Regions from separate parts of the Homo sapiens genome. Here regions 2 and 3 are each linked to region 1. Evidence: fine-mapped expression QTL. A gene starts in region 1. Each other region holds a variant in brackets. All regions are shown on one strand. Distances are between the middles of the regions.

The links. PIP is the estimated chance that this variant, and not a neighbour inherited with it, causes the effect.
Region 2: its variant is fine-mapped to the expression of CARNS1 in whole blood (INTERVAL, PIP 0.91).
Region 3: its variant is fine-mapped to the expression of CARNS1 in whole blood (TOPMed, PIP above 0.99).

The regions. Positions count from the first base shown.
Region 1 is chr11:67,414,308-67,416,979 of GRCh38, forward strand. CARNS1 (carnosine synthase 1) reads left to right here and starts at 1,371. Exons shown (of 10, transcript NM_001166222.2): 1 at 1,371-1,456; 2 at 1,869-1,895. The coding sequence starts at 1,893. RefSeq lists an enhancer at 2,109-2,672.
Region 2 is chr11:67,341,040-67,343,711 of GRCh38, forward strand. The region is part of intron 2 of LOC100130987 (a long non-coding RNA gene); the gene reads left to right. Among named protein-coding and RNA genes, the nearest start is that of POLD4, 11 kb to the right of the region's middle. The variant A/G (reference allele first, on the strand shown) is at 1,396.
Region 3 is chr11:67,096,417-67,099,088 of GRCh38, forward strand. No RefSeq gene overlaps it. Among named protein-coding and RNA genes, the nearest start is that of KDM2A, 22 kb to the right of the region's middle. The variant C/A (reference allele first, on the strand shown) is at 1,256.

The sequences.
Region 1 (2,672 bases):
GCCACTGCACTCCAGCCTGGTGACAGAGTAAGACTCTGTCTTAAAAAAAAAAAAAAAAAAAAAAGGGATAGGGTCAAAAAAAAAAAAAAAAAAAAGAGAGAGAGATAGGGTCTCGGCTGGGTACAGTGGCTTACACCTGTATTCTCAGGACATTGGGAGGCCGAAGCAGGAGGAGCACCTGAGGTCAGGAGTTCAAGACAAGCCTGGCCAACACGGCGAAACCCTGTCTCTACTAAACACACAAAAATTAGCCAGGCGTGGTGGCGTGTGCCTGTAATCCCAGCCACTCAGGAGGCTGAGGCAGGAGAATCACTTGAACCTGGGAGGTAGAGGTTGCAGTGAGCTGAGATCACACCACTGCACTCCAGCCTGGGCCGACACACTGAAACTCTGTCTCAAAAAAAAAAAAAAAAAAAAAAAAAGCGGAGCGAGCGAGAGAGATAGGCTCTCACTGTATTGCCCAGGCTGGAGTGCAGTGGCACAACCAGGACTCACTGCAGTCTCGACCCCCGGGGCTCATGTGATCTTCCCACCTCAGCCTCCCAAGTAGCTGGGATTACAGGCCCACACCACCTCAACCAGCTAGTTTAAATTTTTTTTTTTTATAGAGACAGGGTCTTGCTATGTTGCCCAGGCTGGTCACAAACTCCTGGGTTCAAGCAATTCTCCTGCCTCAGGCTCCCAAAGTGCTGGGATTATAGGCAGCCACCGCACCAGGAGAGGCTGGATCTTATAGACATCCTGGCCCCTGTGTGCAAGTCCACTGGGTCCAGAAGTGAGGAGGGGGCTGCACAGATGTGTGGAGACCCTGGCCCAGGAGGGCCTCTCTGGGAGAACGTGCAATAGGGCAAAGCGCTGGCAGCTGGGACAGAAAGCTGCAGGGCTGGGACCTCCGGCCTCCATCCAAAGGTAGGGCTCAGGGCTGTGTGCTCCAGGCTGCTCTCCCGGGCACCCCACCCCTAAGGGCGGGCCCTAGTACCAGTCTCTGCCTGCTCCGGCTCTCCCCGCCCCTCCTTTCCATCTCTTCTCCATGGTGGGCCTCCCTCTTTCTTCATGGCAGCCCTACGTCTGTGACCCTCGACGACAGTCCCTGTCCATCTGTACCTGGCCCTCTGTCGGGACTTCCTCTGTGTCTCTGAAGACCCCCGTCTCTCCCTGCCTGCTCCGTGCCCTCCTCCTGCTGGGTCCGTGTCCCGCCACACGCCCCCAGGTCTGGGACGTTTTCGTGGCTGACGGGCGGGGGGGGGGGGGGGCGCGTCCCCGGCGGGTCCCTATCGGTCCCTGTCGGTCCGTCCGCCCCGCGCCGCCCCCGCTGGGCACTGGGCATGCCCCAGGCGTTTCTATATAAAGCGGCGCCGCTTGGGCCGGGCGCTGTGCCACTGCCACCGCCGCCGCCGCTGCATCCCGCCCGGTCCGAGTCCGCCCGCCACGCCCGCCGAGCCGCTGCCGCCGCCAGGTACCCCAGCTCCGGCCCCGCCCCGGGGAGAGCCAGGGAGGGGGGCGGCCGGGGCAGGAGTCGCGGGGACGAGGACCCCGGGCGCCCGCTCCCCGCGGCGGGACCCTCGACGCTACGCCCCCCACCCCCGGGACCCGGTGCCCCCAACTCCCCCCCGCGCTGGAGGGGCAGAGCCAAGCCCGGACCCCAGGGCAGGAAGGACCTGTGAGCCGCACTGGGGCAGGAGCCACTCGGTCTGGGCAGCAGAAATCCCTCCCTACCTTCGGGGTGGGGGTGGGGCTGCCTTGGCCTCTCTCTGCAGGGACAGGTGTCGGCCACCTCTCCACTCCCAAAGTCTAGGGGCTGGAAGGCCAGGCAGGGACTTGGCTGCCCTGACTCCTTCGTCTCTCTGTCCCTCTGTCTCTGCCATCAGTCTCTCAGCCACTCCACCCACGAGATGGTGAGTCTTCTGTGGTCCCTCCCCCACAAGGCCCAAGTCCCTGGGCAGAGAGTGGGCCCAGAGGACAGCAGGCAGCACCTAGGACCTAAGCCTGGGAGTTGCCCCCTGCAGACAGCTTAGACCCACGACCAGCTCCCCCACCCCCACCCTGCGGCTGCATCCTGGGAGGTGGGCACTCTTAGTGCCCTGTGACATTCATTCATTCCATGGCCCCTCAGGGAGCTCACCTTCTAGGAGACGGCACAGAGGCTCTGGCCCTGGCAAACTGGGATTCGAGCCCAGGCATGAGGCCCAGTCCTCTGCCGTCTGGGCCACAGCACACCATCTCCCAACAACCAAGAGATTCTCTTCGTCCCAGCCTCATCAGCCCCCAGGGGATGGGAGAGGGCAGGCACCAGGCAACAAGGTCCAAAGAGACCTCACGACTTGCTCAAGGTGGCCGAGCCTGTCCCCTGGAGGACAGACTCAGCTGCCAGGCCTGTCCAGGCCTGGGGACTGCAAAGAACAAGAATTCCATTCACACGAAGCCTCCCAGCAGCCCCATATTGGGGGGGCGCCAGCCTCAGAGAGGGGAGGGACGTTAGGTTTCATCCAAAGAAAGCATTTCCGTGACTCAAAATATCTGCAGGGGGGATACTGTCTAGCCTCCTAATGTTTAGCCCAGGGCTGGGCACACAGTAGGGCTTCAAGACCTACGTGGGGATGACAGTGGAATCACATTTAGGTGTCAGCACACTCCATGCCGGGTCATGAGACAGAAATAAGCCACCTCAGAGT
Region 2 (2,672 bases), 73 kb before region 1:
CTGGGCGCAGTGGCTCACACTTGTAATCCCAGCACTTTGGGAGGCCGAGGATGGTGGATCACAAGGTCAGGATTTCAAGACCAGCCTGGCCAACATGGTGAAACCCTGTCTCTACTAAAAATACAAAAATTAGCTGGGCATGGTGGCGGGCACCTGTAATCCTGGCTACTCAGAAGGATGAGGCAGAGAATTGCTTGAACCCAGGAGGCAGAGGTTGCAGTGAGCCACGATTGCGCTACTGCACTCCAGCCTGGGCAACAGAGCAAGACTCTGTCTCCAAAAATAAAATAAAATAAAATAAAATAAAATAAAATAAAATGAAATTGTTAAGTCCCTAGTAAGACTAAGAAAATAGAGAAAATATAAATCCCCAATTATCAGGAATGAAACAGTGAAATTAAAAATAGATCCTAAACCTAAATGTAAAAGCTAAAACAATGAAATATCTAGAAAAAAATAGAAAATATTTGTTACTTTGGGGTAGGTAAACATTTCTTAGGACATAAAAAGCAGTAACAAAAAAAATGATAAATTGGATTTCATCAAAATTTAAAACTTTGGGCCGGGTGTGGTGACTGATGCCTGTAATCCTAGCACTTTGGGAGGCCGACACAGGTGGATTATGCGAGGTCAGGAGTTTGAGACCAGCCTGGCCAACATGGTGAAATCCTGTCTCTACTAAAAATACAAAAATTAGCTGGGCATGGTGGCACATGCCTGTAATCCCAGCTACGTGGGAGGCTGAGGTAGGAGAATCGCCTAAACCCAGGAGGCGGAGGTTCCAGGTGAGCCAAGATCACGCCATTGCACTCCAGCCTAGGCAACAAGAGCAAAACTCCATCACACACACAGACACACACGCACACACACACACATTTTAAAACTTTCGTTCTTCTAAAGATACTATTATGAAAAAAATTCTGGCCGGGTGCAGTGGCTCACGCCTATGATCCCAGCACGTTGGGAGGCCGAGGAAGGCAGGTGGATTGCTTGAGGTCAAGAATTTTGAGACCAGCCTGGCCAACGTGGTGAAACCCCATCTCTACTAAAAATACAAAAATTAGCCAGGTGTGGTGGCACGCGCCTGAAATCCCAGCTACTCGGGAGGCTGAGGCAGGAGAATCCCTTGAACCTGGGAGGCAGAGGTTGCAGTGATCCAAGATCGCCCCACTGCACTCCAGCTAGGGTGACAAAGCGAGACTCTGTCTCAAAAAAAAAAAAAATTCCAAAAATTTTATCTGGAACCACTAAAGACCCCAAATAGCCAAAGCAATCCTAAGCAAAAATAACAAAGCTGGAGGCATCATACTACCTGAGTTCAAAATATACTACAAAGCTATAGTAACCAAAACAGCATGGTACAGTCATAAAAACATACACATAGACCAGTGGAAC[A/G]GTATAGATAACCCAGAAATAAATTCACACAACTGATTTTCAGTAAAGGTGCCAAGAATATACATTGGGGAAAAGATGGTCTCTTCAATAAGTGGTGCTGGGAAAACTGGATATCCACATTCAGAAGAATGACAAAAATTAACTCAAAATGGATTAAAGACTTAAATATAAGACCTCAAACTATAAAACTACTAGAAGAAAACACAGGAGAAATGCTTCCTGACATTGACCTAGGCAAGGATTTTTGAGATAGGACCTCAAAAGCACAGGCAACCAAAGCAAAAGTAGACCAATGGGATTACATCAAACAAAAAGCTTCTGCACAGCAAAGAAAACAATAGAGCATGGCCAGACACAGCAGCTCACACCTCCAGTACCAGCTACTCTGGAGGCTGAGGTGGGAGGATTGCTTAAGCCCAAAAGTTTGAGGCTGCAGTAAACTTTGATTGTGCCATTGCACTCCAGCCTGGGTGACAGAGCAATACTCCATCTCAAAAAAATAAAATGGTAGAACCACTTCGGAAAACAGACTGGCAGTTTACTCTAAAGTCAAATATATATATATGATATATAATGTAGCAATATGATTCTTTGGCATATAGCCAAGAAAAAATGAAAACCTGCCCACACAAAGACTTGTACATGAATGTTTATAACAGCTCCATCCATCAGAGTCTAAAACTGGAAACAACCCAAATGTTCATCAGCTGATAAATGGGATAAATACATTTTAGTATATTCACACAATGGATTTTTTTTTTTTTTTTTTTTTTTGAGACGGAGTCTTGCTCTGTCATCCAGGCTAGAGTGTGGTGGCACGATCTCGGCTCACTGCAACCTCTGCCTCAAAGGTTCAAGCAATTTTCCTGCCTCAGCCTCCTGAGTAGCTGGAATTACAAGCGCGCGTCACCACACCTGGTTAATTTTTTTTGTATTTTTAGTAGAGACGGGGTTTCCCCATGGTGGTCAGGCTGGTCTTGAACTCCTGACCTCATGATCTGCCCGCCTTGGCTTCCCAAAGTGCTGGGATTACAGGTGTGAGCCACTGTGCCCGGCCAATACACAATGGAATATTATTCAGCAACAAAAGTGAATGAACTTGGCCAGGCATGGTGGCTCATGCCAGTAATCCCAGCACTTTGGGAGGCTGAGGCAGGAAGATTGCTTGAGTCCAGGAGTTCAAGACCATCCTGGGCAACATAACGAGAATTAATTAATTTTTTTTTTTTCCACATAGAGATGGTGTTTCACTCTGTTGCCCCAGACTGGTCTCAAAT
Region 3 (2,672 bases), 320 kb before region 1:
AGCCTGGCCAACATGGCAAAACCCTGTCTCTACTACAAATACAAAAATTAGCCAGGGGTCGTGGCAGGCACTTGTAATCCCAGCTACTCGGGAGGCTGAGGCAGGAGAATCACTTGAACCCAGGAGGCTGAGTTTGCAGTAAGCGGAGATCATACCACTGCACTCCAGCCTGGGGTGACAGAGCGAGACTGTGTCAATAATAATAATAATAATAATAATAATAATAATAATAATAAATAAGGGGCATCTTTGGCTTTGGGTGGAGCCAGGCTGGTGGCTGCAGGGGCCCCATGGGAGCAGGGAGGCCGGGAGACACTGCTACCAGGGACCTCCACTCACCTGCCTCCTGCCCTCCCAACTCTGCCTTAGAGCCCAGCAGGCTGCCTCCCAGCAGGCTGGCTCTTGCAGTGGGATGTGGCACAGGAGGTTTTTGTTTCCAGCGGGCTTTCCTTCCCACATCTGCAAGTTCAAACTCAATGCCCATGATCCCTAGAAAGCCTTGGTAAAGGATGTCACTAAGTCTGACATTCTCTCAAACTGAACTTTTTTTTTTTTTCTGGTGCCCACCATACCCTACCCTAGTTCTCTCAGAGCATCCAAAGAACTCTCCAGAACTCTCCATTGCCCTCTGTAGCTCTGGATGTGGTGCCTACCACGGGCCGTTGGCAGTCCCGATTCTGTGTCTCTGACCAGGGGTTGCTCAGGCCACTGACTCTGCACACACATGGGGCAGTGAGTGTGCCAGGGAGCCAACAGCCTCTGGAAGCAGCCCACAACCAATGGCAGGTGGCAGCGGGTGGATAAGGAAAATGTGGAGTCCCCTTCTACACTGTCTCCCAGAGGTGTCCAGCCAGGCAGCACCAGCAGCCACTGCAGTGACTTGCTCGACGATGCACCCTTCGTTGGTTCTCTTCCCTCCCTTGTCTTACTTTCCACTCCTCTGTCAGTATTTCCTAGGACCATTTCCCAAATAAACTTCTTGCACTTGAATCCTTGCCTCAAGGTTTGCTTCTGGGTGAATTCGAAGTAAGGCACAGTGGCTCACACCTGTAATCCCAGCACTTTGGGAGGCTGAGGAGGATTGATCACCTGAGGTCATGAGTTCGAGACCAGCCTGGCCAACATGGCGAAACCTCGTGTCTACTGAAAATACAAACATTAGGCGGGCATGGTGGTGGGTGCCTGTAATCCCACCTACTTGGGAGGCTGAGACAGGGAGAATTGCTTGAACCTGGGAGTCAGAGGTTGCAGTGAG[C/A]AGAGATCACACCACTGCACTCCAGCCTGGGTGACAGAGTGAGACTGTCTCCAAAAAACAAAAACAAAACAAACAAAAAACCTACAAAAAAACAAAGACACACTCACTTGCTTACATTAAGAACAGGGTCTGGGCAGGGCGCAGGGGCTCATGCCTGTAATCCCAGCCTTTTGGAGTGTGTGTCTATGTGTTTATCTGTCAGGGTGAAGGTGGCTCTCAGAATTGATTGGGGGCAGCTGGGCGTGGTGGCTCATGCCTGTAATCTCAGCACTTTGGGAGGTCGAAGTGGGTGGATCACCTGAGATCAGGAGTTTGAGACCAGCCCGGCTGACATGGTGAAACCCTGTCTCTACTAAAAATACAAAAAATTTGCCAGGTATGGTGGCAGACGCCTGTAATCCCAGCTACTTGGGAGGCTGAGGCAGGAGAATCACTTGAACCCAGGAGGCAGAGGTTGAAGTGAGCCGAGGTCACGCCACTGCACTCCAGCCTGGGCAACAAGAGCAAAACGGGGCCGGGCACAGTGGCTCACGTCTGTAATCCCAGCACTTTGGGAGGCCAAGGCGGGTGGATCATGAGGTCAGGAAATCGAGACCATCCTGGCTAACACGGTGAAACCCCATCTCTACTAAAAATGCAAAAAATTAGCCGGGCCTGGTGGCGGGCGCCTGTAGTCCCAGCTACTTGGGAGGCTGAGGCAAGAGAATCGCTTGAACCCGGGAGTGGAGCTTGCAGTGAGCTGAGATCGCACCACTGCACTCTAGCCTGGGCAACAGAGCCAGACTCCGTCTCAAAAAAAAAAAAAAAATAGAGCAAAACGTCATCTCAATAACAAAAAAAAAAAAGGAAGAAGAAGAATTGATTGGGGGCTGGAGGACCAGGTTTGGGATGGGCAGGAAGCCAGATGGGAATGATGTCCATCTTTCTCCACTTCCTCAGGCCACCTGCTTGGGAGTCAGCAACCTAAAAAAGGAGGTCTGCTGGGTCAAACCGAATTTGACCCGGCTGCACCCGGTCAGGAGAGGGAAGATGTCTCTATTCTCCCCAGTACCACCCATGGGGCATCTCCAAGGGAGACTGGGTACCTGTAGGAACAACCTCACTGAATGGAGTTGGATAGGAACCACCAAGAAATGCAAATGTACCTCGGCCTTTATTATTCTTCTCCCAACCATAAGGCAAAGCTTAGACTACAAGTTTGCCACCACCCTCCACACCCCATGTCCTCTGCCACACTTCACACTGCTCCTTTTCTCTGACCCACTTGGATGCCTCTTCCCATTCTTCTGTCACTGTCTCACTCTAGTCGCTATCACCACTGCCCATTACCACCTCCTCCCTCTGGGTATCTGGCCTCCAGCAACTAACTGCCTGCCATGTGCCCAGTGCTGGCTGCCAAGCTGTTTCTCCCATCTTT